Linked DNA regions of Homo sapiens. The protein of the gene in region 4 purifies or fractionates together with the protein of the main gene of each other region. This does not show direct contact. Each region holds a gene or a part of one and is shown on either strand. Other genes may lie near its edges.

Region 1 (7,033 bases), on a different chromosome or scaffold from region 4:
CCCCCAAACTCCATCAATTTCTATGACTAAAAAAGTCTTACTTTCACATGACATCAACATGTGGATTAAATTCATAGTTTTATATAACAGTGATAGCAGGAGAAAGAACCATGTAGCAGCAAGCAAATATCAGACTTCCCTCTTATAAACTGTGTGATTTTTTTTTTTTTTGAGATGGAGTCTTGCTCTGTCTCCCAGGCTGGAGTACAGTGGCACAGTCTCCGCTCATTGCAACCTCCACCTCCCAGGTTCAAGCCGATTCTCCTAACTCAGCCTCCCAAGTAGCCAGGATTACAGGTGCCCGCCACCACACCCGGCTGATTTTTGTATTTTTAGTAGAGACAGGGTTTCACCATGTTGGCCAGGCTGGTCTCGAACTCCTGACCTCAGGTGATCCACCCACCTCAGCCTCCCAAAGTGCTGGGATTACAGGCATCAGCCACACTGCCAGGCCAACTGTGTGATTTTTAAAGTAAGTTACTTGATCTCCCTTTGTCTTTAGTTTTCTCATCTGTAAAACACAGATAATACTGTGTTTTCAGAGTTAAATAAAATTATATAATAAAATGCTTAGCATATAATAGCGATTTTAAAATACGTTTCCATCCAATTATTTTTCCTTTTAAAAAATGTTAACATCACCCTGCCTTGACCATTGTTGAAACAAGCATCAGTATGTTGCTACCATTAACTGTGCACAGTGGCATGCATCTGTACTCCCACCTACTCTGGAGGCTGAGGCAGAAGGATCCTTTGAGCCTATCAGGTCAAGGCTATACTGCATTACGATTGTCTCTGCGAATAGCCATTGTATCCCAGCCTGGACAACACAGCAAGACCTCATAAAAAACAAAACAAAACAAAAAAAAAAAGCCACCTTAGTCTGGGCGCAGTGGCTTACATCTATAATCCCAGCACTTTGGGAGGCCGAGGTGGGTGGATCACTTGAGGTCAGCAATTCGAGACCAGCCTGGCCAACGTGGTGAAACACTGTCTCTACCAAAAATACAAAAATTAGCCACGCGTGCTGACAGGCACCTGTAATCCCAGCTACTTGGGAGGATGAGACAAGAGAATCACTTGAACCTGGGAGGCAGAGGTTGCAGTGAGCTGAGATCATGCCATTGCACTCCAGCCTGGGCAACAGAGTGAGACACCGTCTCAAGAAAAAAAAAAAAAAGCCAACTTATTATCAATAAGGACATGAAAAGATACTCAATATCACTAGTCAACCTACTAGAATGGCTATAACTGGAAAAAAGGAAAACAACAAGTGGTGGCAAGGGTGTAGAAAAAGTGGAACCCTGATACTTTGCTGCTAAGGGAATGTAAAATGGTACAGCCACTTTGGAAAACACTTTAGTGTTTCTTCAAAAAATTAAATATGGAATTACAACAACCCAGCAATTCCACTCCTAGATATATACCCAAAAGAACTGAAAATAGGAGTACACTAATACTCATAGCAGCATTGTTTATAATAGCCAAAAGGTGAAAACAAATGCAGTATCCATCAATGAATTAATATACAAAATGTGGTACATTAAATATGATTCAGCCATAAAAATGATACATTCTACAACATGTATGAACCTTGAAAACATTACGCTAAGTGACATAAGTCAGACACAAAAGGCTAAATATTACACGATTCCAATCACACGAAAGATCTAGAATAGGTAAATTCACAGAGACAAAAAGTAGAGGCTGGGCACAGGGGCTCACGCCTGTAATCCCAACACTTTGGGAGGCCAAGGCAGGTGGATCAAGACCATCCTGGCCAACATGGTGAAACCCTGTCTCTATTAAAAATACAAAAATTAGCTGGGCGTGGTGGTACATGCCTGTAGTCCCAGCTACTCGGGAGGCTGAGGCAGAATTGCTTGAACCTGGGAGGCAGAGGTTGCAGTGAGCTGAGATCGTGCCACTACATTCCAGCCTCCATCTCAAAAAAAAAAAAAAAAAAAGTAGATTAGTGGTTACCAGGGGCTGGGTTGAGAAGAGAATGAACAGTCACTGCTTAACAGCTACAGAGTTTGTTTGGGATGGTAAAAAATACAAAAAATACAAAAATACAAAAATTAGCTGGGCATAGTGGTGCGTGCCTGTAATCCCAGCTACTCAGGAGGATGAGGCACGAGAATCGCTTGAACCCAGGAGGAGGAAGTTGCAGTGAGCTGAGATCGCGCCACTGCACTCCAGCCTGGGCGACAGAGCGAGACTGCATTTCAAAAAAAAAAAAGGCATTAGAAAGTCATCGTCTTGATCGAAATCTTCATATTGTTTCCCATTTTCAACAAACTTAATTCTAGAACCTTGCAGGTTTGACCATTAGCAAAAATTAGTAGTTTACATAAATTTAAACATAGGGGAAACTAGGTGCAGGGTTTAAGGGATTTCTCTGTACTACAATTACAAATTTTCTGTAAATTGGTAACTTCATGATTTTTCTATAAACTTTCTAAAAAAGTTTATTAATAAAAAAGAGACATGTTATTGAATCTCAAAAGTGTTATGCTAAATGAAAGAAGCCAGTCTCAAAAGGCTATATACACTGTGTGATGCCAATTTATATGGCATTTTGGGAAAGGCCAAACTATAGGGATAAAAAACAAATGAGCTGTTGCCAGGGAGTGAGGGGTGGGCTGAAGGGATTTACTTCAAAAGGGCATAATTATGGAAATTTTTGGAGTGATGGAAATATTCTATATCTTGTATCTTAATTGTGGTGGTGGCAGTTACACAACTGTCACTGTTTTTTGTAATTCATCTGTTTTAGCAGAACTATACAGAACTTTACACCTAAAACAGATGAATTTTACTAAGTGTAAATTATACCTTAATAAGTATGACTTTTCAAAAAGAATCCTTAACAATGGTAGTATCATGTCATACATTTCAATACACACAGAATTCTAGCCTGATAAATGTCATTATGAGATCTAGTCAGATGAAACTAGGCGATTCAAGCCGGGCACGGTGGCTCATGCCTGTAATCCCAGCACTTTAGGAGGCAGATGTGGGCGGATCACTTCAGGTCAGGAGTTCAAGACCAGCCTGGCCAACATGGTGAAATCCCGTCTCTACTAAAAACCCAAAAATTAGCCAGATGTGGTGGCAGACGCCTGTAATCCCAGCTACTCAGGAAGCTGAGACAGGAAAATCGCTTGAACCTGTGAGGCGGAGGTTGCAGTGAGCCAAGATCGTGCCACTGCACTCCAGCCTGGGTTACAGAGCGATATTCTATCTAAAAAATAAAAATAAAAAATAAGCCTTGAAAACCCCTCCCTAGGCCTGGTGTGGTGGCTCATGCCTGTCATCCCAGCACTTCAGGAGGCCGAGGCAGGCAGATCATGAGGTCAAAAGATTGAGACCATCCTGGCCAACATGGTGAAACCCCATCTCTACTAAAAATACAAAAATTAGCCGGGCGTGGTGACGTGTGCCTGTAATCCCAGCTACTTGAGAAGCTGAGGCAGGAGAATCACTTGAGCCTGGGAGGCAGAGGTTGCAGTGAGCCAAGATCGCACCACTGCACTACAGCCTGGTGAAAGAACGTGACTCCGTCTCAAAAAAAAAAAAAAAAAAGAAAAAAGAAAAAAAAAAAGAAAAGCTTTCCCTAAACCTACGTTTTATGTTCCCTTAGCTAAGTTTTCCCTTAAGTTGTTCTCTGTGCATTGAAATAACACTATCCTTAACACCTCATCATCTTCTTCTTCCTATAGTAAGGATTTACAATCTAAACTCTTTACTCAAAAATCTTGTCTAATTAACTCTTATCTATTTTCCATTTGACTATATTATCCCTTACATCTTTTCTTTCCCGTAACAAATTTTTTTAAATAACTGAAGTACTTTTTGCTACATGGATTGTAGTTAGTTGGTCTCTCCTAGTTGGAATATAAACTTCCCAAAGGCAGGAAGTAACTATTTCTTTATACACTCCAAAAATCTGGTTTGTACTATGTATCTAAACACTCAAATGCCATATGAAGAGATTCAATGAAAAGAATACTGGGGCCCGGGGCGGTGGCCCACACCTGTAATCCCAGCACTTTGGGAGGCAGAGGCGGGCAGATCGCCTTAGGTCAGGAGTTCAAGACCAGCCTGGCCAAAATGGTGAAACCCCATCTCTACCAAAAATACAAAAATTATCCGGGCATGGTGGCATGCACCTGTAATCCCAGCTACTCGGGAGGCTGAGGCAAGAGAATCACTTGAACCCAGGAGGCGGAGGTTGCAGTGAGCTGAGATTGCGCCATTGTACTCCAGCCTGGGCGACAAGAGTGAGACTTCATCTCCAGAAAAAAAAAAAAAAAAGAAAGAAGGAAGAAAAGAAAAGAATACTGGGGTGGACGTGGTGGCTTATGCCTGTAATCTCAGCGCTTTAGGAGGCCAAGGTGGGCCCAGGGGTTCAAGACCAGCCTGGACAATGTGGCAAAACCCCTCCTCTACAAAAAACACAAAAATTAGCCAGGCGTGATGGCACGTGCTTGTAGTCCCAGCTACTTGGGTGGCTAAGGTGGGAGAATCACCCAAGTGTGGGAGGCAGAGGTTGCAGTAGGCTGAGATGGAGCCACTGCACTCCAGCCTGAGCGACACAGAGAGAACCTCCCTCAAAAAAAAAAAAGAACAGAACACTGGGCCTAGCATTGTTAAGACCTGAATTCAAGCAATGCTTCTAATTTATTATGCTAAGTAAGTCACAACATCTTTGGGCCTCAGCAAAATCAGAATACTTGCTGTATTTACCTCACAGGTAATAAGGTCTTGGAGGGAAAACAGTGTTAGCTAAGCTATAACCATCAGTCAATCCAAGTGTAAAGATGTATTATTGTCAGTCATAGCTATCTTGTCTAAAATTAGCCACTAGTGTTTTTTAACCAAGCTCAGTGCACAGCAAATTAAGTGCACCAACATTGCACATCAGTCATATCAATAATGTAACTGTTATACTGTAATACTAACAGAAAGCCTTATGTTTAACAGTAAGCATGTTAATTATACACTATCTTAATGCAGTCTCAAGGTTAAAAGATAAATACTTGTTGCTAAGCCAACAATAACTGCCTTCAAATCTATTAAAAGAGGATTTATAAATCCCATTTGTTTTTGTACCCAAATAGCTAAGTTTAAAATTTTAAGAAATCCAAGAATTAGTTTAAAATTGTATAAATTCTCCTTTTAACTTTCTAAAATGTCCATATGCACTCTCATTGTGTTTTAAATCCATTACATTAGAAAAACAGACTGCAGGCCGAGTGCAGTGGCTCATGCCTGTAATCCCAGCAGTTTGGGAGGCCAAGATGGGAGGATCGCTTGAGGCCAGGAGTTCAAGACCAGCCTGGTCAACATAGTGAGACACCATCTCTATTAGAAAAAAAAAAGAAGAAAGAAAAAAAGAAATAACATACTGTAGAAAAAAAGGATACAAAGTATACATAAATGAACAAAATAAAGATAACAAAAATATGACTCCACTACAGATGCAGAGAAAACAAAGACATTTCTTCTCATCCCAACCATAATCCTATGAACAACCTGAAAGATACTTACAGCAATATTTGCAAGTATGACCATAATTCTCATCAAAAGAACATCATATATGAGTACCATCAAAATGATTACAAATTATAAATTACCAGTGATAATTTTCTCATTGGAGTCCCTTTTCCTTTTTCAAGCAGAGAACCAAGACAGAATAGCCTCTAGATCTTTTTTGTGGTGGTGGTTGTTTTTTGAGACAGTGTCTCACTCTGTTACCCAAGCTGGAGTGCAGTGGTGATCATAGCTCACTGCAGCCTCAAACTCCTAGGCTCAAGAGATCCTCCTGCTGGCAGGGTACAGTGGCTCACGCCTGTAATCCCAGCACTTTGGGAGGCCGAGGCGGGCAGATCACAAGGTCAGGAGATTGAGACCATCCTGGCTAACACCGTGAAACCCTGTCTCTACTAAAATAATATAAAAAATTAGCTGGGCGTGGTGGCGGGCGCCTGTAGTCCCAGCTACTCGGGAGGCTGAGGCAGGAGACTGGTGTGAACCTGGGAGGCGGAGCTTGCAGTGAGCGGAGATCACGCCACTGCACTCCAGCCTTGGCGACAGAGCGAGACTCCGTCTCAAAGAAAAAAAAAAAAAAGAGAGATCCTCCTGCCTCGATCCTCCAAAGCACTGGACTATGGGCATGCATTAATGCACCCAGCCTCTAGATCTATACTGTCCAATATGGCAGTTACTAGTTACATGGAGCTATTAAGTGCCTGAAATGTGGCTGTTCCAAATTGAGATGTACCAAGTGTAACATACACCAGATTTAAAAGATTTAGGGGAAAAAAATAATGTAAAATCTCCTACCTATGTGACTCCCATTTTTGGCTCACATATTTCTCATGTACAGCACTGCTTTATATATGTAGTCGAATCCTGAATAAGGAAAATGGATACCAGAAGTATTAAGCAGTTTGCTCAATATCTCACCGCTTGATAGAAGCAGAGCAGGGCCTAGAACCTGATCACGTTTATCCATCCTGCCCTTATGAATAGAAGGAATTAATCATTTAAGACTCAACTTGAGCATCCTCTTCCTCCTCAAACCCCCTCATTCCTTTTCCATCTCCCAGCCCAGGTGACCATATCCTATTTAGCCTGCCCTTATAATTATACTGTTATAAAATGTACGTTGTCTTCCAAATGGATGAGAAATTCTTGAGAGCAAGCACTGTCTCATTCATTTTTCTTATCCCTGGGAACCTTTGAAGTACCAGGCACTCTTTCAGGCCCTCCGGCACTCTCAGAGCTTTGAGAGGGTTAATTTTTAGCCCTATGCAGGTACAACTACTAAAATGAAATCACCTACAATGTGATGCACCACCAGAAACATCCACATTTATCATTTGCCTGTCTTAAATTATTTTTGGAATATGCTAAATTAATACAATGCATAGGCCAGGCGCAGTGGCTCACACCTGTAATCCCAGTACTTTGGGAGGGCGAGGCGGGCGGATCACTTGAGGTCAGGAGTTCAAGACCAGCTTGA
Region 2 (7,126 bases), on a different chromosome or scaffold from region 4:
AGTCCATCTGAATTAAGTCAAAAAGCCTTTCTTGGTCATACCTCCTTAGCATTTCATAACACTTGGCACCTCTCCTATGGCATACATTATACCTTATGTTATACATGAGCACTCCTATAATTGACAAGATCCTCAAGAGCTTCTTACTCCTCTTCTGATGCCTGCAATGCCTAGCCCAGTGTTAAGTAGAGAACTAAGCATTAGATATGAGCTGCCCCAAATGTTTCCCACTTAGAAAGCAATGGAGGACTGTGTTTTCAGACAATCCCAAACTCCCTTAAGGGAATTAAGCACATATTCTCCTTTTGTCTCATATTTCTATGTCTTAGACCAATTTTTAAGTAAATTGCCTTCAAGATATCTAGACTGCTATTTAGTATACATAACTGTAAGAGTTCTGCTCCAGGGAGTTCCAACTTGTAACTGAACCCTGAATATTTAAGCTCTCTCTTTATGCCAAAAGACAATGGAAATTTATTTTTTGAATGTTAATAAAATTGAGCAAAACATAAAAATAACTTGCACTGAATTAAACATGTTTGAAGTAAAGATTCATTAATGCTAATGTGTCTGTCCTAAAAATTACATTTCAAGTTCTAAAGTCTTTGTGTACCCATTAAAAAGATTGAAAGTTTTATTTCAACTCTTTCTCACCTCAAAGACAAACTAAAATAGAACAGAGAAGGCTTTTCCTTAATTTTATTTAGATCCTAACTTGAAGGTATACTTTGTTATTTCTTCAAAAGGAGCAAAAAGAGTATGATTAATGAGCATGTTCTGACCAGATCTCTAAGTCCTACTCCAAAGCTGTAACAGGAGAGTACCATAGACCACACTACCAGCACCCTTCGTTAGCAGACCACAGGCTTTGTTTTGTATCTCCCTGAGCTAAGAATGGCTTTACATTTTTGTGTTTTGTAAACACAAGAAGAAGAATATGCAACAGAGAGCATATGTGGCCAGCAAAGCCCAAAATATTTACTATTTGTCCCTTTTCAACAGGATGAATTTGGGACTCCTCGTTGCCCTTCACTGGCACGTAAGACATCCCACCTTTAAAAAAGCAATGTAAAACACAAGACCATTTAAAAAGATCGAACTCGTTCAACTTAGTCATAGTTAATGCAGACTTAACTTCTAAAACAGAGACCTGTGTGTGGACATTTTTATTCTTCACAGAATTTTTGTTGGAAGAAACTTGCCTTCATTCTGTGGATGAACATACTTATGCTTGAAAATGGAAAGTGCCTGACCCAAAGTCACACTGCTGGTTAACAGCAGAGTAGGGTCAAGGACCCAGCCTTCAAAACCCTGGTCCAATGCTTTGCAGTCCACTACATACACCTATACATGTGGCTTTAAATTTTGGAGATGTGGATAACTAGCTTGGATCAATATAAAAGATGAAAGCTTAAAACCTGTTCCTAACATACTGTTTAGACAGACTCCTACTAGCAGCTATGAATCATTAAACAGAGTAGCATTAATGCTCACCACATACATTAGATAAGAACTTCTAGGAAGTCCTCTGTTTCAAAAGCAGATATGATAAAAAAAGGCTTTAAACCTACAGGGTTTGCTCCTCCAGGGCTTCAGATTAGGGCAAATAACGCACTTCTGCCTACCAGCTGTTCAATACTCATCTCCCAACCCAAATCCACAAGTTCCACAAATGCTTTCGAATGCCTGTTGAAAAACATTGTTCAGTCTCATCACATACACACGTTCTACAGATAATTACAACTTCTTGTATGCCTACTTGTAAAACTACTAAGTAGTTCACATTTTAAAAAATTTCCCTAAGAATTTTGCTTCCTTTAAAAAAACTGCTTCTTCGATTCCTAAATCTATAGAACTCACTTTATCACGTCTTCTCGGTTAATCCAAGAATTAAAAAAACCATTTTGCCCATACTGATAACTTTACTACTCTGCAGGATCCGAAAAGCTCTCTATATGCCAGGTTCTAGGATTCACACACATTAACAACCTAAGATCCTTCAAGTGAGATAGCTCTTGCAGTACAGAGCACAGATTCTCAGGGTCGTGGGGGATACCGGCTGAGGCTCTTCAGACCCCCACCACAGGAGTTCCGTCCTCTAAGGGCAACCCCCTCCCCCTTGGCCGCGGCGCGAGTCCAGGCCTCCCGGGCACCTGCGGCCCCTGCCCGCTGCGGGGACCCCCCGAGGAACCAGCCCCCCGCCGGGCCCCAAGGAATCGGCGCCCACTCCCACTCCTGGAGGCCAGTGACTGCAGGCCTAAGCCGCCCGCCGGCCCCGGGACGCGACGTTACCTGTAGGACCACGTCGTTCGGCAGCTGCGCGGCCCGGAACAGCTCCAGCACCCGCCCGTTGACCACCACCTTCTTGGTGCTCTCAATGTCGCAGTAGGAGAAGAGATCTGAATAGTATTTCTGCTCCGCATCGCTCAGCGTTAAGCCTTCCATCTTCGCCTCCGGCTCACGGCCGCCCCGCCCCGCATGCACTACTCGGGGCCCGGCCCCAGGAACCTGGGCCGGCAGGGGCTGCGCGTGGCCCGGCCTCCTGCTAGCTTCCCGAAAACGCCGGCCCCGGCCTCACACGCGCCAGGTGCGCCCGAGCAACAGGGCCCGGAGGTCGCGAGGAGGGGGCCCGGCTGCGCTCGCCGCGCCGCTGCCTGCGAGGCCCGGCGCGCGGCTGCGGCTGCGGCTGCGACTACGGCTCCGGCTCCGGCTCCGGCTCCGGCCGCGGGGAGGGTGCAGAGAAAGAGGCGGGGGCCGCGGAGGCGCGAGGCACTGGCGGACTCCGCCCCCGCCGCGGGTTCGAGTCTCCCCGGCTCCCTGCCGATTCCCCCAGACTTCCCGCCTCGGCTTCCCCTTCCGTCCACGCCTCCGGAGCGGCAGCGCTTCCCGGAAAGTTGTGGGGCTTCGAACCTAAAGTTTCGGGGGATCTGGGCTGAGCGTGGCCGCCGCTCCGCCTCCCTCCGCCGCCATTTACAGTGCCCCGGCCCGGCCCCGACGCGCCCGCACCAACAGTGACAGCGGCGGCCGCGCTCCAGACCCGGATGTGAGGCCGGGAGGAGAGAGCGCGAGAGGGAGAGAGAAACACCCACCGGGCTGGCTTGGCCGCTCCCGGGAGAGGGAGGAGGCCGCAGCGCCCCCTGGTGGCCGGCGCCCGGCGGCGGGATGACCGAGCCGCCCTCTGCGCGGAGATCTCAGCAGCAAGACCCCCGGAAAGGGGGGTGCAGTGGGAAACAGCCGGCAGCTCATTAAGACCGAGATAACTAAGATCCGGGTTGCAGTTTTTATGTTTCGCAGTTTCTGGTCCTAAGCGTCTGAATAATTGGATTGAAAGGGGAGCCTTGTTCAGGTTATTATCATTCTATCTGTACCTTTTCGGTACAGATGAAGATAAATGCAGTATTTCCATCTGTTCTGAAGGGCTATGAACATCCGGGCTATGAACATCCTGGCTATCCGGGAAGCCTCCACGTAGACACCAACATTGAGGCTTCATCTCACTCGTGCTTCAAGCCATGTTTACCTGAGAAACAAAATGTGCTGAATAGAGGGGAAAACTGGCAAAGTTGTCCTCTTTGTTCACCAGGTCATTCCGGTCACTGGGAACTTAATACTCTACATTTATACCTTCAACTCTATCAACTCATGTAGGCCCGGGGCTGCCCACAGGGGCTGCCTTCCGTATTTTCTCCTTTATGAAAATCATGGAGTGGCGCTCTTTTAATCTGCACCTGTCCCAGAGAGGGGATTCTTCAGCTATTTCAAGTAGAATATCTTAAGAATTTATACTTAGCAAATATAAAATACTTCAAAGACGGGAGCTAAGGCAGAATTACCCAGAGTTCTGGTTTTTATTTTGTCTTCTACAAGTTGTTTCCCAGAGTGCGGATCCTATAAATGACACATATGAGGAAATTATTACAGGTTCCCAGTCATTTATCTGTAATTGCAAAATTCAAAGCGCACTGAAAACCCAAAGACTTTTTTTTGTAACCCTTTGGAAGTAAAACCTGCCCTGCCTCATTTGGAGGCAAAATCTAAACTAAGCTTGCATGAAGCTATTTCTAGCCTTTATGGATCCCACTTAGTGTCAATATTTACTCATTTCACTCCAGGTCTTTGTAGAATGTTAATATGTACACAGTCACAGGCATTCTATTATCTTTCTATTTTTTAAGAAAGATAAGGGATTTTAGACCTGTCAATGTCTTCTGACTTGACTAGTAGTATTTGATAAAGGTAAGTATATACTATCCATTAAGCTTATTTCCCATCTCTAAGACTTTCAGTTTGCTACAGCAGCCCCTCATGTGTCCTTTCAGGGCACCTGCAGCAAGTGATCAGACCCCCCCCAGACAGCTGCCTTCCAAAGGTGTAAACAGAAAGAGCACAATGGGGTAGGGATTGGCTCACAATTGTCTTTGCATCTTTTTCTCTGCCACCTCTCCTAGGCCTTGCAGCTCTTGTCGGCCCCAGGGCCTTTGTTCCTGCCATCTAAAATAGTCCTTCCACAAACCATGGCATGGCGTATTCTCTCATATGGTTTCAGGTCCCTGCTCATATGTCACCTCCTCAGAGCAGCCTTCCTGCAACAGCTGCTGTAAAATAATCCCACCATGCACTATCCCCTTATCTGAATTCCTTTTTTTTCTCTTTTGAGACAGAGTCTCCCACTGTCACCCAGGCTGGAGTGCAGTGGCATAATCTTGGCTCACTGTAGCTTCGACCTCCCAGGCTCAGGTGATTCTCCCACCTCAGCCTCCCAGGTAGCTGGGACCACAGGCCCAGGCCACCATGCCCACCTAAATTTTGTGTATGTGGCTTTTGTAGAGACAGAGTTTTGCCATGTTACCCAGGCTGGTCTCAAACTCTTGGGCTCACCCACCTCAGCCTCCCAAAGCGCTGGGATTACAGGCATGAGCCACTGCACCCAACCTGAATTCTTTTTCTTTATAACACTTTTCACTATCTGACATTACATATATAGCTGTTACATTTTTAACGGCTAATTATTGAATAATTACTAAGTTTCAGGCATTGTTCTAAAGCTTTACACTAATAACCACATTATTCACAACAACCCTATTAAGTGGTACTACTAGGTTTTTTTTTTTTTTTGACAGATTAGGAAACTGAGGCAAAATGGGTTAAGTATTGTGTAAGTCATGTTGCTATTAAATACCCGGATCTGGGATTCAAACTCCAGGCTGTCTCAACTCTAAAAATCACTACCCTATCTTGCCTGTCTAATTTCTTTGTTAAGTTTGTTATTAAGAAAATATTTCTTCACCAGGCATGGTGGCTTATGCCTGTAATCCCAGCACTTTGGGAGGCTGAGGTGGGTGGATTGCTTGAGCTAAGGAGTTCAAGACCAGGCTGGGTAACACGGTGAAACACCATCTCCACCAAAAATACAAAAATAGCCAGGCATGATGGTGTGCACCTGTGGTCCCAACTACTCGGGAGGCTGAGGTGGGAGGATCACTGGAGCCCAGGAGATAGAGGCTGCAGCGAGCAGTGATTGTGCCACTGCACTCCAACCTGGGAGACAGGACGAGACTCTGTATCAAAAAAAAAAAAAAAAAGAAGAAGAAGAAGAAAGAGAGAGAGAAAGAAAGCAAGCAAGCAAGAAAAGAAGGAAAATATTTCTTCATTGCCACAGTGCCAAAGCCCAGTATGTGACACATAATGTGTATCAATAATAATTTGTTGAATGAATGAAAGCATCAATTTTGACATTGATGTGATAAGCCATTCAATACAGTAAGTCCTCAATTAATGTTATTGTGGATAGGTCCGTGGAAACTAATTTTAAGCAAAACAAGGTATTCTAACCAAGTAGTTTAGCTTCAAAAGAAAACTTTTTTCTTTTCTCCTTTCTTGCCAGTCTCAAGCTGTAACCTTGAAACAAACTGTAGAAACCTTTTCTCTTTAGTCTTAAAATATAGCCTTGAAACATACTTTGAAACTCCACTCCCTTCTATTTCCCACAATGTACTCCCTTACCCAATGCACATTTATCTAACTGTATGCTTCTTAAAAATTCCAGGGGCTAATTTAAAATGAACTAGGCACAAAGGCCCAGCTGCAGAATTGTCCCCCACTTAAAGATTGCCTCAAGATAGATAATCTGCAGCCTGGCCACAGGCGAGATGACGCCAGCCTGCATTTTAGATGGACCATAACTCAAGATAGGCGTTGAAGCAAGACACACAGCCCGGGCTCCCGGCACAACTCTTGCATGTTTCCCATATCAAGGTTCCCTTTTTGAAACCTCTGCCTTCAGCCCAGACTTTTGAAGCAGTTTCCAGAGGTGTAAGCTGGCTGTTTCCCCACTGCTAGCTTTGAAAAATAAAGTCACTTTCCTTTCACCCCTTGTTATTGGGTTTGCAAAGGGCAAACAGCCAAGGCTGCACTTGGTTACGGTATCACGAAACCAATTTTATCATAGGCTAATTGATAATTTGCTACAAACAAGAGTTAAGTTGCTGTGACATATTTCTGGTCACAGAATCACCAAATTTCTAAATCGAGACCAAAACACTTCTAATATTAAACATTTAAGTAAAGGTAAGCTACACATGCAACTAAAATGATTAACTAAAAAAAAAATAACTACTTACCCTATTTTTGGTATATTGGTGAGTTACCACGGTTGTCCTGGTGGTGGGTTAAATCAAGGAATAAATGTCTGCAAAGTGAAGTTCAAAATCATCACAAACATGGTGGCTTGCTGAGCTCTCTGGCACCACCTTGTTTACTGTTTTGCATCTGTATGATCATCATATGCTTTACACATTTTTATTTTTCAGTCACTTATATTCATTCATTTTCCTACCTACTTATTCCATTTCGGGGTTGTGGGTAGCAAGAGCCTATCCCAGTGGCTCATGGGACAGGTAGAACCCAGCCCCTGTCTAGGATGTGATTGCATCACAGGGTATACACACACACACACACACACACACACACACACACACACACACATCCACACTCACTCAGACTGGGACCATTTAGACACCCTGACTTATCTAATGTGCACATCTTTGGGATGTGGAGGGACACCTGAGGATTCAGAGAAAACCCACACAGACATAGGGAGAGCATGCAGACTTCACACAGACAGTGG
Region 3 (5,129 bases), on a different chromosome or scaffold from region 4:
AAATACAAAAAGAATAACAAGGAGAGTAGTATTTTAAAGACACTCAAGTGTATGCAAGACACAACAAGTATTTTACAACCAAGCCAGCCAAGCTATCCTTCAGGTATCAAGGCTGTAAAAAATAAATATGCAAGAACTCAGAGAATATCACACTTACAAGACTTTCCTGGGGAATCTAACAGAAGATAAGCTTCATCCACCTAAGAGATGACTGGGGTCATTTTCATTTTTGGCAAAAGAACTGATGGTGAGAATTGAATGTTTAATTGAGAATCTAAGACTAAAACAAAGGTGGTGACAAGCGTTGCAGAATATACATTATATTCTGACAAACAAATACAACTGAAAATGAAGGAGGAGGGAGAAAAGTTGAATAATAAATATTGTATGGGAAAGAAGTAGAAATCGAAGGATGCAATAAGCTGACAAACCAAATCACGGAAGCTTGAATAAGGAAAAAGGAGACCAAGGACATTGCTAAAAAGTATTACTATGAAGGTAATCACTAGAACAAACACGTGAAATGTTCTGAATACCAAGATAATTTTCTTCCTTTCTTTTTTTTTTTTTTTTTTGAGACAAAGTCTCACTCTGTCACCCAGGCTGGAATGCAGTGGCACAATCTCGGCTCACTGCAACCTCCGCCTCCTGGGTTCAAGTGATTCTTCTGCGTCAGCCTCCCGAGTAGCTGGGATTACAGGCACCCGCCACCACACCCGGTTAATTTTTTTTGTATTTTTTAGTAGAGACGGGGTTTCACCATGTTGGCCAGGCTAGTCTCAAACTCCTGACCTCAGGTGATCCACCCACCTTGGCCTCCCAAAGTGCTGGGATTACAGGCATGAGCCACTGCGCCCAGCTGAGAATTTTTAAAAACAGACTACAAAGTGCAGCAAATACAATAAACACAGTAAAAATCTAATATGATGGAGTTGAGACCAAACATACCAGTCATACCAGTAGGCAACTCTTCTATCAAAAGAAAATGATGTTCAAATTGGCTAACAAAGCAACACTAGTTTTGCACTAGGTACAAAGAAATACAAAGTGATTTAATGTGAAAACCAAGAGACAGGCAAAGGAACCCCAGAGAGGTGGTATGGTGCATGTGTACTGCACATGTGCATGTATAGCTATCTTTATCAGGGTTATACTTATTTATAAGAAGTACTTTTATGTTTTTGTTTCTCTGTGGTCCAGAATAATTTATGTAGCTCTGGTCTTTGAAGGTTTTGTGGAATTCCCATGTGAAGTTTGTGGGCACTATTGCTTTTTTTGTAGCAAATCTTTGATACTTTTCTCTGTTTCTTCTATGGAAGTCAATTTTGGAAAACTGTATTTACCTAGATTTTCCATTTCGCCAAGGTTTTCAAATTTATCAAAAGTTATGCCTAGCAGTCTCATTAATTTTTTTCAAAGAACCAGGATTTCGATTTATTGGTGCTACATTTTTCCGTTTTCTACCTCAATTTCCGTAGGCTTTCTATGGGTTTACTTTGTTATTTTCTAGCTTTCATAGTGGAGATTTTAATTCACTTATTTTCATTGTTTCGTTTTTATTTATATAAGTAATGGAATGCTATAAGTCTGATGGGAATATGTCAGAGGGACGCATGAGCCAACTTCCAGTGGCTCTGACTGGCCAAATGTGAGACAATTTGAACATCAAAAAGAGTAACAACAGTAATGGATTATGACACACTGAATGGAAAAAACAAAACAAAACCATGAGTCCACGGTGATATTTTTTAAAAACCAGGTGTGGAATGGAGGGAGGAAAAGCCTTCTTTACAGAAGAATGACAGTAGTTGTAAAAAGAGCAAAGGATTGACACATTTGCAAAGAAATGCCCTTCAGATTATTTATTAATTATAATGAAAGAAATATAGTCACTACCTCAGCCAAGTGATCAAACATAAAATTACTGACAGAGGAACAAAGTAATGTCATATGCTTCCTGATATTTTGTACTAAGAAAGACATGTGTCACCTCCATAGAATCTTGCCAAAAATATTGAACCTCGATCCAATTATGAGAAAACATGAGATGAATCCAAATTGAGGGGTATGCTACAAAATAACTGTCCTGGGTTCTTAAAAATGTCAGTGTCAGGAAGAAATGGAAGGAAGTGTTAGGGAAACTGGTCTAGCTTAAAGGAGACTACAGAGATCTGAAAATGAAATGCCATGTACATTAGAATATGGTGTTAATGTTAAAATTCTTGAGCGTGTTCATTGTTTTGTGGTTCTGTTAAAGTGTTCATTCTTATGAGGTGCCTCCTGACTTAGGAATGAAATGTCGTGATAGCTGCAGCTTTTTTTTTTTTTTAATCTGCAACTTTTGATACTCATCAAAAAAATGTAAGTTTTTTTATAGGGAGGGAGAGAAAATATGGCAAATGTTAACAGTTGGTGAATTTAAGGAAGAAGATACATGGGTTTTATTGTACTATTGTTTCAACTTTTATGTCAGTTTGAAATTTACTTTAAAAGTTGGTACAAGAAAATAATAGTTTCTCCTAAAGAAAAATAACTTATATAGAAAATTTACTAGGCTTAGGAAATTCAAGGCATTTTTCTCCATAAAGTATTTTTCTGTTCACTGCTAGGGGCCAGTCTTTCCATCAGATTCATGAAGGACCCCCGCCCCATCCTGCCCCAGGCCTTATTCCACTGACTGTTTTCTCCCAGCTCCTTCCCTTCTTATACACTGAAGACACATTAGTCTTCCCCCGCCCCCGCCCCGCCACCGCCTTTGTTCATTCTGAACAGTCCAGTTCCTTTTTTTCCCCCTTGTGCAAACGAGCAAGCCTGCTCAAGCGCTTTCCCTGACACTGACAGTAATAGCTGTGCTGAAGATGAGGCGGGAGCACTGGGGAGGGGGCTTTCCTTTCAGCTTTTAGGATTGGCCAGGCAAGTTAACAATAGGCCCCTTCTATTTAGGATGAGGGACTGGAAAGGAAAAAGAGAGGAACTCATGCTGATTTTCTGTCGACTAGATCCAGATGCCAGGATGCCTTCTTTCCCTCCCTGAGCTTTAGTCTCCGTCAGCATTGCACTCCCAAAAGGTCATTCACGTACGTGGCCTTGAAATGATCTGACTGCTAAGGTCCAGGGTTTACTGTCCATAACAGAGTTTCCCTTTGTCTCATTCTCCCCATCCTGGCAGAGAAAGGGACTCTCACCCTGCCTTTTGCACTAATTGGCGGAATGCCCACAGCCTGGTCTGAAAGTCTCCTCTCTCCCTTTCAGATGACCCAGCAGATGGCTGGGATGAACTTCTATGGAGCCAATGGCATGATGAACTATGGACAGTCAATGAGTGGCGGAAATGGACAGGCAGCAAATCAGACTCTCAGTCCTCAGATGTGGAAATAAAAACAAAACACCTGTATGGCTGCCATTCTCTTCAGCCCTCGCTCTCCCCTTTCCACAGCCTCCACCCCTGACCCCCATCCTCTTTTCCTACCTCTCTGTTTGGTTTAGAAATTGCTCAATAAGTCATTTGGGGTTTGGCATCCTGCCCAGCCACTTCCCAAACATGAAGACCTCTCTGTTGCTTTATGTTGTACATGCCCCATAGCCATCCCAACGTCCTCCCCAGTCCTCTCCTGGCACCAGCACCTTAGAAGTTGTTGGCAGAAGGCACTTAAACTGTGGGAGAAGTGTGCACACCTTTGAGTCCCTTCCCTCAAGGTTAAAGCTCCTGTCAGACTCTCAGAAGGGTCTGTGGGTGTTGTATATTAGGCAAACAGGGGAAAGCTTAGAGGTCCTTCTATATGTGTTAATAAGCTGTTTCTAAGTGTTTAAATTTGAAAAGCATCATGTTCTCATGATTTATGGGAATGAAGCAAGTACTGAAATCAAATTAAATACTCCCTGGGTCCTGGGTCAGTTTGACCCTAGCCCTGGGGTGAGGCAAGCCCCCTCCTATGAGGATGAGCAAAAATACTACTCTCTTCGCCCTGAGTTGCTTTCTGGATCTGGGGCTTCAGGACTTGCTGCTTCAGTCAGCCTTTATTAGCACCAAAGACTTTATGAAGATCCCACACACAGACACACATCCCTTCCCGCCTCCCCCCTGCCTTCAGTAGGATCTGGCTCCGTGGCTGGAGGACCAACCCCTATAGTGGGAATGCAGAGCTTAACGTGTACTGCTTGTGTGTGTGCGTGAGTGTGTGTGTGTGTATGAGTGTGTGTTCCGCCTCCCACCCTCTCCCCATCTGCTCTGGGTATTTTTGTTTTTGTTTAGTTTTAGGTTTACAACAGAGAGGAATTAATTTATCAGCAGCCTAAAACTGTTGTGTTTTTCTTATGGTTTAAAAAACGCCATGTCATTGATAACTCCCTTTCTCCCTTCCCTTCTCCCGGTCTGCTGATCACTCTTTCATGCCTGTGTATCCAGGGTGCTCTGTTTCCCCACCGTTCCCAGGTGTACGAGGCAGAGGGCCGGGACAGCTTTCCTCTCAGTCATTGTTCACCCCACTTGAAAATTCAGACAAGAAAACTTTGCTTAAAAGATTTCATGTGTGGGAACCACAGTTCCTGGCTGCCTTTCTCCTGTGTATGTGTAAATTCCTTAATAAATATTGCAGGGAAGGACTGTTTGCTTGGCCATTACTGTGCGTCACTCTTGGAGGAGGGTGCGTTACACTTAGGTTTTCTGTTTTCCAAAGGCAATTGTTTCACTTCCTGTATTTTAGAAAATTCTGTACTTCTCATACCCAAGGGTGAGGCCCAGGCTCCAGCAGTCAGAAAGGGGGCCTCTCTCCACTGGCATCTAGAGCTGTGAGCTGAGAGAACTCCAGAGATCAGCACCTTCTAGAGTCACAGAGCATCAGAGCGGCATGCTTTCCCCCCACAGGTGGAGAAACTGAGACACGGAGAAAGGACATGGTTGGCAAATGTCCACTAGAGAACCCTGGGCAGAACCGGCAGTAGCCTCCAAGTGTCTGGATTTCCAGCCCCTTGTTCTTTCCCTATACCATGGCAATTAAGTAGTGAGTTGAAATTCCTCTCTGCCAAGAGAGCAGTAGCTTTGGCTGGTAAAGGTAACTCACCCCTCTCTGAGCTATCAGAACTGGACCTTCCGTATCAGTGTCAGGAATTAGGACACTCAATCCTGGGGG
Region 4 (7,033 bases):
AATTTACCTCAGACTGAACTATAGCAACTTGTACTTAAATATAAACCAATCTGGAACTTGTATAAATCAAAGATCAAAAAGAATGACTTCCCACACAGAGCAAAGGGGTTAAATATATTTTTATATATAAACATTTTAAGGAACCTACAAGTTCTGATACGCATTCAAAAGCCCTTACTAACTTCTCAACAACAAATGACCTGAAGATTCCCATTAGTCCTACAAGTAAAACTGAAATTTCTTACTTTTTTGGTGTCCAATTTTATTTCAGCGCAAAATAATTTATTCACAAGTTGAAAATATAAATCTGACTAGCACACGATGAAATGGAAGCTCCATATCTGATCAATGTTCAAGAATTCCTGAATGTAATAGTGAACTAATAAGTATGAAATTCAGGTAACATGCCATCAGGATTGAGGTCATATGCAACTCTGTCAAAAAATCTACTCTTCTCTCACAAATACTTTAAGATAAAAAGTTCCTGGTGTGCCCTATCATTATCACGATAAATCATGTTCACTGCATTTTCACTCTTTTAAACCTAAATACTCCTTAAAGATTTAGAAACTCTAGGAGATCCTGTCTTAGAGGCAACATAAAAAATAAAAATCATGGGAGAAACAGAAATAAAAGAAGAGTAGAGAGACAAAGAAAAGAAAAACTAAGGATAGAAGGGCAAAGGAGAGAAAGTAACAATACAGAACACACACAGATATCTAACCAGCCTACATAGCGTTATTGTTTATAAGTAAAACCTAAGACCCAACCAGACTGTGTGGATCTGCCTAAAGTAACACAGTTAGTGGTGGAACTGAGCCTGCCCTGAAATGTCTCTTTTTCAAGACTGTTTGAAAAACTGGAATGTGATCTTTGAAGAGCTAGAACTTATTTTTAGCACTTTGAATAAATCTATTTTACAAGTATATATCTAGCTTTTTTATACTGAAAAAGGATGCATATGATAATTATAAATACTAAACATTGGGAGGGAAATGGTGCCCACTTCAAATATACAGAGCTGTTTCCCTCATTAATGTTTTTGTGGCCTGTGTAAGTTTTGGCTTGGTTTGGAAAACATTATTGAAATTATGGCCATTATTCTGTTGGTATTTCCTGAACAGGCATTCCAGGGATTTAAAAGATATGAAAACATCCTAAAAATACACTAATTAGATTGTATTTTTGTTTGGACCTCTTTTTAATGATCCCTAATTCTGAACTATTAGGATTTTTGGCGCAGGGTAAAGAAAAAGAGATGGCATTTAGTTACGAGAACTCACTTGAAGGCTTGGTTCCATCACTAACTGTGTTATTTAGGCAAGTCCACACAGTGTGACTGGGTTTTAGGTTTTACTTATAAACAACAAAGACAAAATTCTTATTCTACTCTAGTAGAGATATTGTGAGGCACAAATGATAAAGGTCAAATTTAAAAAGTAAAATTTGCTCTGTAAATTAAGTGCTATATGCATTACCCTTTACATTCTCAGAAAAATTGGTTTATAATAATATTGGTAAGTAAGAACAAAAGTGACTGCTGCAAAGCTCAAAGTATTGTTCCATGTAAAACTAAATACCATCAGAAAATGTAGTTTATAAAAATACAGCTCTATTCTCAAAAACTGGTTCAAAATCCATTTGGATTGTTTTTCTGGTACACACTGGCACAGAATCATAATGAAATGTCAAGGAAGCATTAAATTTCAAATCCTTTGACTTATGTTTAATTAAACTTAATATATAAACTTCATTATCCCTCAGTATCTTAGGTCCCTGGATCATCTAAGGTCCAAATGCAAAATAATCTATACAAGTTTTTACTGGGGAAAAAAATCCAAGGAAAGACTACTAGCTTGAATAAAAATACACAGGATCAACTTCAAAAATAAGTAGACAGAGGCAACATGGAAAGTATGTCAATACTAATTGCAAGTAGTGTATAACCTAGTATCTTAAAAATAGTTGCACAGTGCTTGCTTCAGCAGCATATGTACTAAAACCAGAACAATACAGGGAAGATTAGCATGCCCCCTGTGCAAGGATAACTTGCACATTTAAGACTTGTTCCACATTTCTGCACAGGGCATATTTATGGCAGTGAAACTATTCTATACAATACAGTAATGAGGAATATTATGCATTTGTCGAAACCCATAGAAGTGTACAATATAGGAAACCCCAACGTAAACTACAGACTTTAGTTAATAAGTGTATCCATACTGGCTTTTCAATTGTTAACAAATGCACCATAGTAATGCAAGATGTTCACAGAACCTGTTATGAAGGGGAAGTGGGTATATGACAACTCTGTACTTTATGCACAATTTTTCTGTGAGCTTAAATTGCTCTAAAAACAAATGAAGTCTATTAAAAAAAAAAAAAAAGGCCCAATTTCAGATAATGTTAATACCCCAAACAAAACCAACAAAAAACCAAAAACCCAGTGGCATAAATTTAGGGCTCTTTCTAAGAGACCCGGGAGACAAAGTGGTAAAATACCTGCATCTTTCTGGAGAGTCTTCTCTATCTTTCCTCCGGAACTTGCTGATGGTGTCATCAATTGTGCTTCCAATTTTATCACTCAGCTCACCTAATTTATCACTGAATGGAAAAGCACTCTTGTTTTTATCCCACTCCTCATCCCATTTTGATTTGGGCTCAGGATCATATCTTTCACCTAGATAGAGCATTAAAAAAAGAAGCAATTCTAACGACATTAAATTCAAAAGGTATCTACAAGTCCTTATTTCTCAGGCTTTTCCTCATAATAAAATCATTTTCAAAGGAAAACAGAAAGCTCCCACAGTGCTGAATCAACACAATTACAGCAAGGCATAGCATGTAATGCCAGTCATTAAGTGGCAGGAATGCAGATTCAAAAGCTTTTGTTTATGAATACTTACACAACCTTAATGCACAGCACAGCATATCAGGAAATTCTTAAAGGCTACTGAAAGGAGTAGTGGAAAACACAAAACCAACACAAGCTATATAAGCAAAAGAGAAATGAAAATCTTTCTGTTTTCACAAAAGACACTTAATATGTTATATTTTATTCCTGTCCCTTAATGGTTTCCCAATTTTCAGAAAAGCATTGGATAGCAACAGTATCTTAAAAAATACAACTGAAGGAACTCCAATCTGAATGCTACATGTCCCAATAAGCTAAAAAGTCTCAATAACTGTCACGCCTCAGTATCAAACTAAAAAAATAATTCAATGAATTTTCAGGGGATGGGAAAGCATTCCGTAATTACTGTACAAAGAAAGGATTACTCTAACTACCAAAAACTACACATACTAGAATCAGGAAGTATGCTCAAACAGTAGTTCAGAACAGTGTCAACCAATTCAAACACCCATTCCAAACATATGCTGAGACTGGCGAAACCTAGAGCCTCTGTGTGAATTTGGGAATGCAGAGAATAGATCGTGGCAGTAAACAAAAAACCCAAAATGTCAAGATTTGTTTTAGTCCTTGCCCCTAGGGACCCAAAGGAGACATAGGAATTACAGACACAAAATGAAACCCTTCCATTTCCATGTCCAAATCCAACTTAAGAAGCAACAGTAGAAGGTACAGAGAGCACGTGAGGTATTTTTAAAAAAGAAAACATTAAAAATTAAGGCAGGTTGGAAGAAAATGAAAAGGACAATGAGAAACAACAAAATAACTAAAAAGTGGCTAATGGAGCTTTTGTTTTGAACTTTTGTTTACAGGATCTAAAAGGATACATAGCCTTTGGAGATTGAACAAAACGATTTTGCTGAATTGCCTCCTAAAATTGCAAGGCTAAAATTTTCTGTTACATGTTTAAGGATTTTAACATATTTACTGAATCTGGAAATGACCATCAACTTAAAGAAAACATGACAAAATGAAGTTTTCTAGACAAAATTTAAACCAGGATGGTTTTTTTAAAAAAAGTGATTTTCCAACAATGTGTATGTACATTTCAACAACAGTGTGATGAACCAGACTTCGGAAAGAAACAAATTTACACGAAAAATGGAAGTGGATGAAAACCAAACTGATTAGCATGGCATGGTGAACATCATACTGAATTACTGCTAAAGATACTGGATATTGGCAAGACATTATCTAATGTCAGAATGAAAAAACACAAAACTGGCCGGGTGCGGTGGCTCATGCCTGTAATCCCAGCACTTTGGGAGGCCAAGGTGGCTGGATCACTTGAGGTCAGGAGTTCAAGACCAGCCTGGCCAACATGGCGAAACCCTAAAAATACAAAAATTGGCGAGGCATGGTGGCTCACGCCTGTGGTCCCAGCTTCTTGGGAGGATGAGGCAGGAGAATCACTTGAACCCGGGAGGCGGAGGTTGCAGTGAGCTGAGATGGTAACACTGCACTCCAGCCTGGATGACAGAGCAAGAATCCTCAAAAAAAAAAAAAAAGAAAAGAAAAAGAAAAAACACAAAACTGCTAAGAGTGATTAGTTAAGTCTGAATAACATAAACCATGAACAATAACTTAGCAAAAGGATGTGATGCAAACACACAGGATATCCAACTCTATCTTTAATACAGATGCTGCAGTTAGTGCATTGTGACTGAGTTTGAAAACGTATTCAATTTTCTAAGTTTAGCTGATATAATTATATATCATGCTGGCAAAAAGAAAGATACAAGCAAGAATAGTGTGGAAATAAGTTTCAAATAGCAATTTCTATTAAAAACACATTAAGTTGCTACAACTACTTTGAAAAACCTGAAGAATAAAGTTACTACTTGGGTAAATAATCCAAAAACTTTGGACTTCCCCAAATAGAAACTTCAAAACATTATTTATATGCTTTAGGAGAAATATTTTTGCCCAATTCAAAAACTAACTTGTGGCCGACTCTGGTTGCACTGCCTATGAGTTAGCCCTATTTAAAAAAAAGAAAAAGAAAAAACTAACTTGTATTTGATGCTTCAATATAAAAAAGGGAATTTTTCTGCTGTTAGAAACATCCTTAAACAGCTAACTAAACGCAGTGTTTTTTCTTTGAGAGTGGGAAAGCAGAGGAATAAATGAGTAAGGATATTTTATATGTTAAGATTTTTACATGGTTCCATTGAAGGAGATATGAGAGCTCAATATAATCCAAATATAAACATATATGGGTGGGGGGAGCTGGAGAGCCTCAGTGAACAGCTGCTAAGATACACAGCACTGGCCAGTCTGCACATACACAAAATGAGCAAGAGATTGTCAGAGCTCACAGAAGACAGAACAAGTCCAAAGGGACATGCCGTGAAAGACAGTTCCTATTTTGTGTATCTGCTTCAAGCACCTATGCCCTATTTTAGAGAAACTATATTATTATATTAAAAATAAACATGAAAGATGAATGTTCTAGCTGCTCTTAAGTGTACTGGGAAGAATAAACAAAACAATAGGCCTAGATGAAAAACTGCGAGTATCGTCAGTCATCTTTTATATGTCAAAGTATGCAATGCTTAAATAAAGAAAGAGAGACTGAGGCTGGAATGACTGTCAGGAAGCTTATCTGGTTTGGGCCAAAAATACAGCTAAATTGGTTTCAAATTAGAAAGATGGATCTCCTGATCAAACTTTTTATTTTTATACTCTAAACTCTGAGTTATAGAAACTTTCTTCCCCCTTCTTTTTAAAATGGCAATCCTAAGAGGGAAGGGCATATATCTGTTTTAATCTCTGTATGACACCTCAAAATATGCAGTCATTTAATTAGCCATTAATGGTTAAAATCCTATTGCCGAACCCACAAGTTAAAAATAGGAAGATTCATGTGATAGTAGAAGTCAAGATTAGTACTGCGTGTATTTTAGTATTCTATGTATTCCTAGAAAAGAAAATTAGCATTTTGGTCTTTGGTATTTCACTGATTCTTAAAATATACTCAAGAAGCTAAGCTGATGCTTAGGTGTCAGCTTGTCTTTGATACTCACTGTATCTGAATCCTCCAACACTGTCTGAGGAAACCCCAACATACTTGTCTTTGTTCTTCTTTGCTTTCTTTCGCTCTTCACGAAGCCTGTCGTCATCCTGGGCAAATTCAACCAATTCCTTCACCTTCTGTCGAATATTTATACCTTGATCCTTACCATGCTCATCTATGAGGATGGTAAGAGATAAGCAAAACCTAAGAATTCACTTAATATGTATCAAGCTCTTTAAGATTAAAAAAAAGACACAAAAACTTCAACATAAGAAACTTCAATATTTAAAAAACAATAGAAAGGGGCAAGTTGTGCTATTTAACTTTGTCATTTCCTCTTCAGCAAATTCTAAGTTCTAAAATGGAATTTTGGCTTATAAGAGCATGTAAAGATGAACTAAAAAGGACCACAGATAATGGTACTATGCAAGGTCAATTAAAGATTGACCTAAAAAGGATTACTGATGATGACCACACAAAATAGACATATCCATAAGTGCTATTGTGTTTTTCTATCATATTTTAAGAAAACAAATCAAAAGAAGAACCACTTTAGCATGTTAATAACTGAAAAGCACACAAATGTCTTGGTTTCCCCAGTACACGTCTGGAACACTAATTATGAGGTTTTAGCATAGCTCAAAAACTGAATTTTTAAAGTGCTTACAAGTGGGGTACGCTACAAAATGAAATGTGCTTCATTTTCTAGCCTCTTTCACATTCAAAACACACTGTGGCCTTGCTGCCTTTGCACAGTAAATATTATTTGGTGGGAGGGAAAAAAACCCCAGCTTCAAACAGATGTGTGTGTTTTGGAGCTCTAACCTTTTCTTCCCATATGATTAAAGCTATTCCTTTATGGACACCACAGGGGACCAGTCTCCAGTGCATATTTTAATATAAACCCGAACACTCATGTTGTGTTGGTTCTGTTGTTATTAGCCAGTCTTTTCTGCAAGTTCTTGTCTTCACTAATTAATACTCTAGGGCCCCACGTCTTGGATTCTGCACTCGTCACACAACCAGCAACAGTCACATTCTAATTAGAGCAGAGAAGCTTCTAAGCTGGTTCAGGTGACTGACAACTCCAACTACTGTTTTAATTT

What was found.
Region 1: the proteins of CLINT1 (region 4) and PIK3C2A purify together in Homo sapiens (co-immunoprecipitation; 3 studies listed by BioGRID and IntAct, with this or other methods). This does not show direct contact.
Region 2: the proteins of CLINT1 (region 4) and REPS1 purify together in Homo sapiens (affinity purification with mass spectrometry; 2 studies listed by BioGRID and IntAct, with this or other methods). This does not show direct contact.
Region 3: the proteins of CLINT1 (region 4) and SMAP2 purify together in Homo sapiens (affinity purification with mass spectrometry; 2 studies listed by BioGRID and IntAct, with this or other methods). This does not show direct contact.

The regions. Positions count from the first base shown.
Region 1 is NC_000011.10:17,197,956-17,204,988, forward strand, and holds part of PIK3C2A (phosphatidylinositol 4-phosphate 3-kinase C2 domain-containing subunit alpha), read right to left. Parts: intron 6,421-7,033; exon of another isoform or gene 6,352-6,420; intron 1-6,351.
Region 2 is NC_000006.12:138,985,238-138,992,363, forward strand, and holds the start of REPS1 (ralBP1-associated Eps domain-containing protein 1), read right to left. Parts: upstream 3,017-7,126; 5' UTR 2,446-3,016; coding exon 2,293-2,445; intron 1-2,292. UniProt on the Homo sapiens protein: May coordinate the cellular actions of activated EGF receptors and Ral-GTPases.
Region 3 is NC_000001.11:40,418,724-40,423,852, forward strand, and holds the end of SMAP2 (stromal membrane-associated protein 2), read left to right. Parts: intron 1-3,252; coding exon 3,253-3,378; 3' UTR 3,379-4,599; downstream 4,600-5,129.
Region 4 is NC_000005.10:157,807,126-157,814,158, forward strand, and holds part of CLINT1 (clathrin interactor 1), read right to left. Parts: intron 6,103-7,033; coding exon 5,938-6,102; intron 2,681-5,937; coding exon 2,503-2,680; intron 1-2,502. UniProt on the Homo sapiens protein: Binds to membranes enriched in phosphatidylinositol 4,5-bisphosphate (PtdIns(4,5)P2). May have a role in transport via clathrin-coated vesicles from the trans-Golgi network to endosomes. Stimulates clathrin assembly.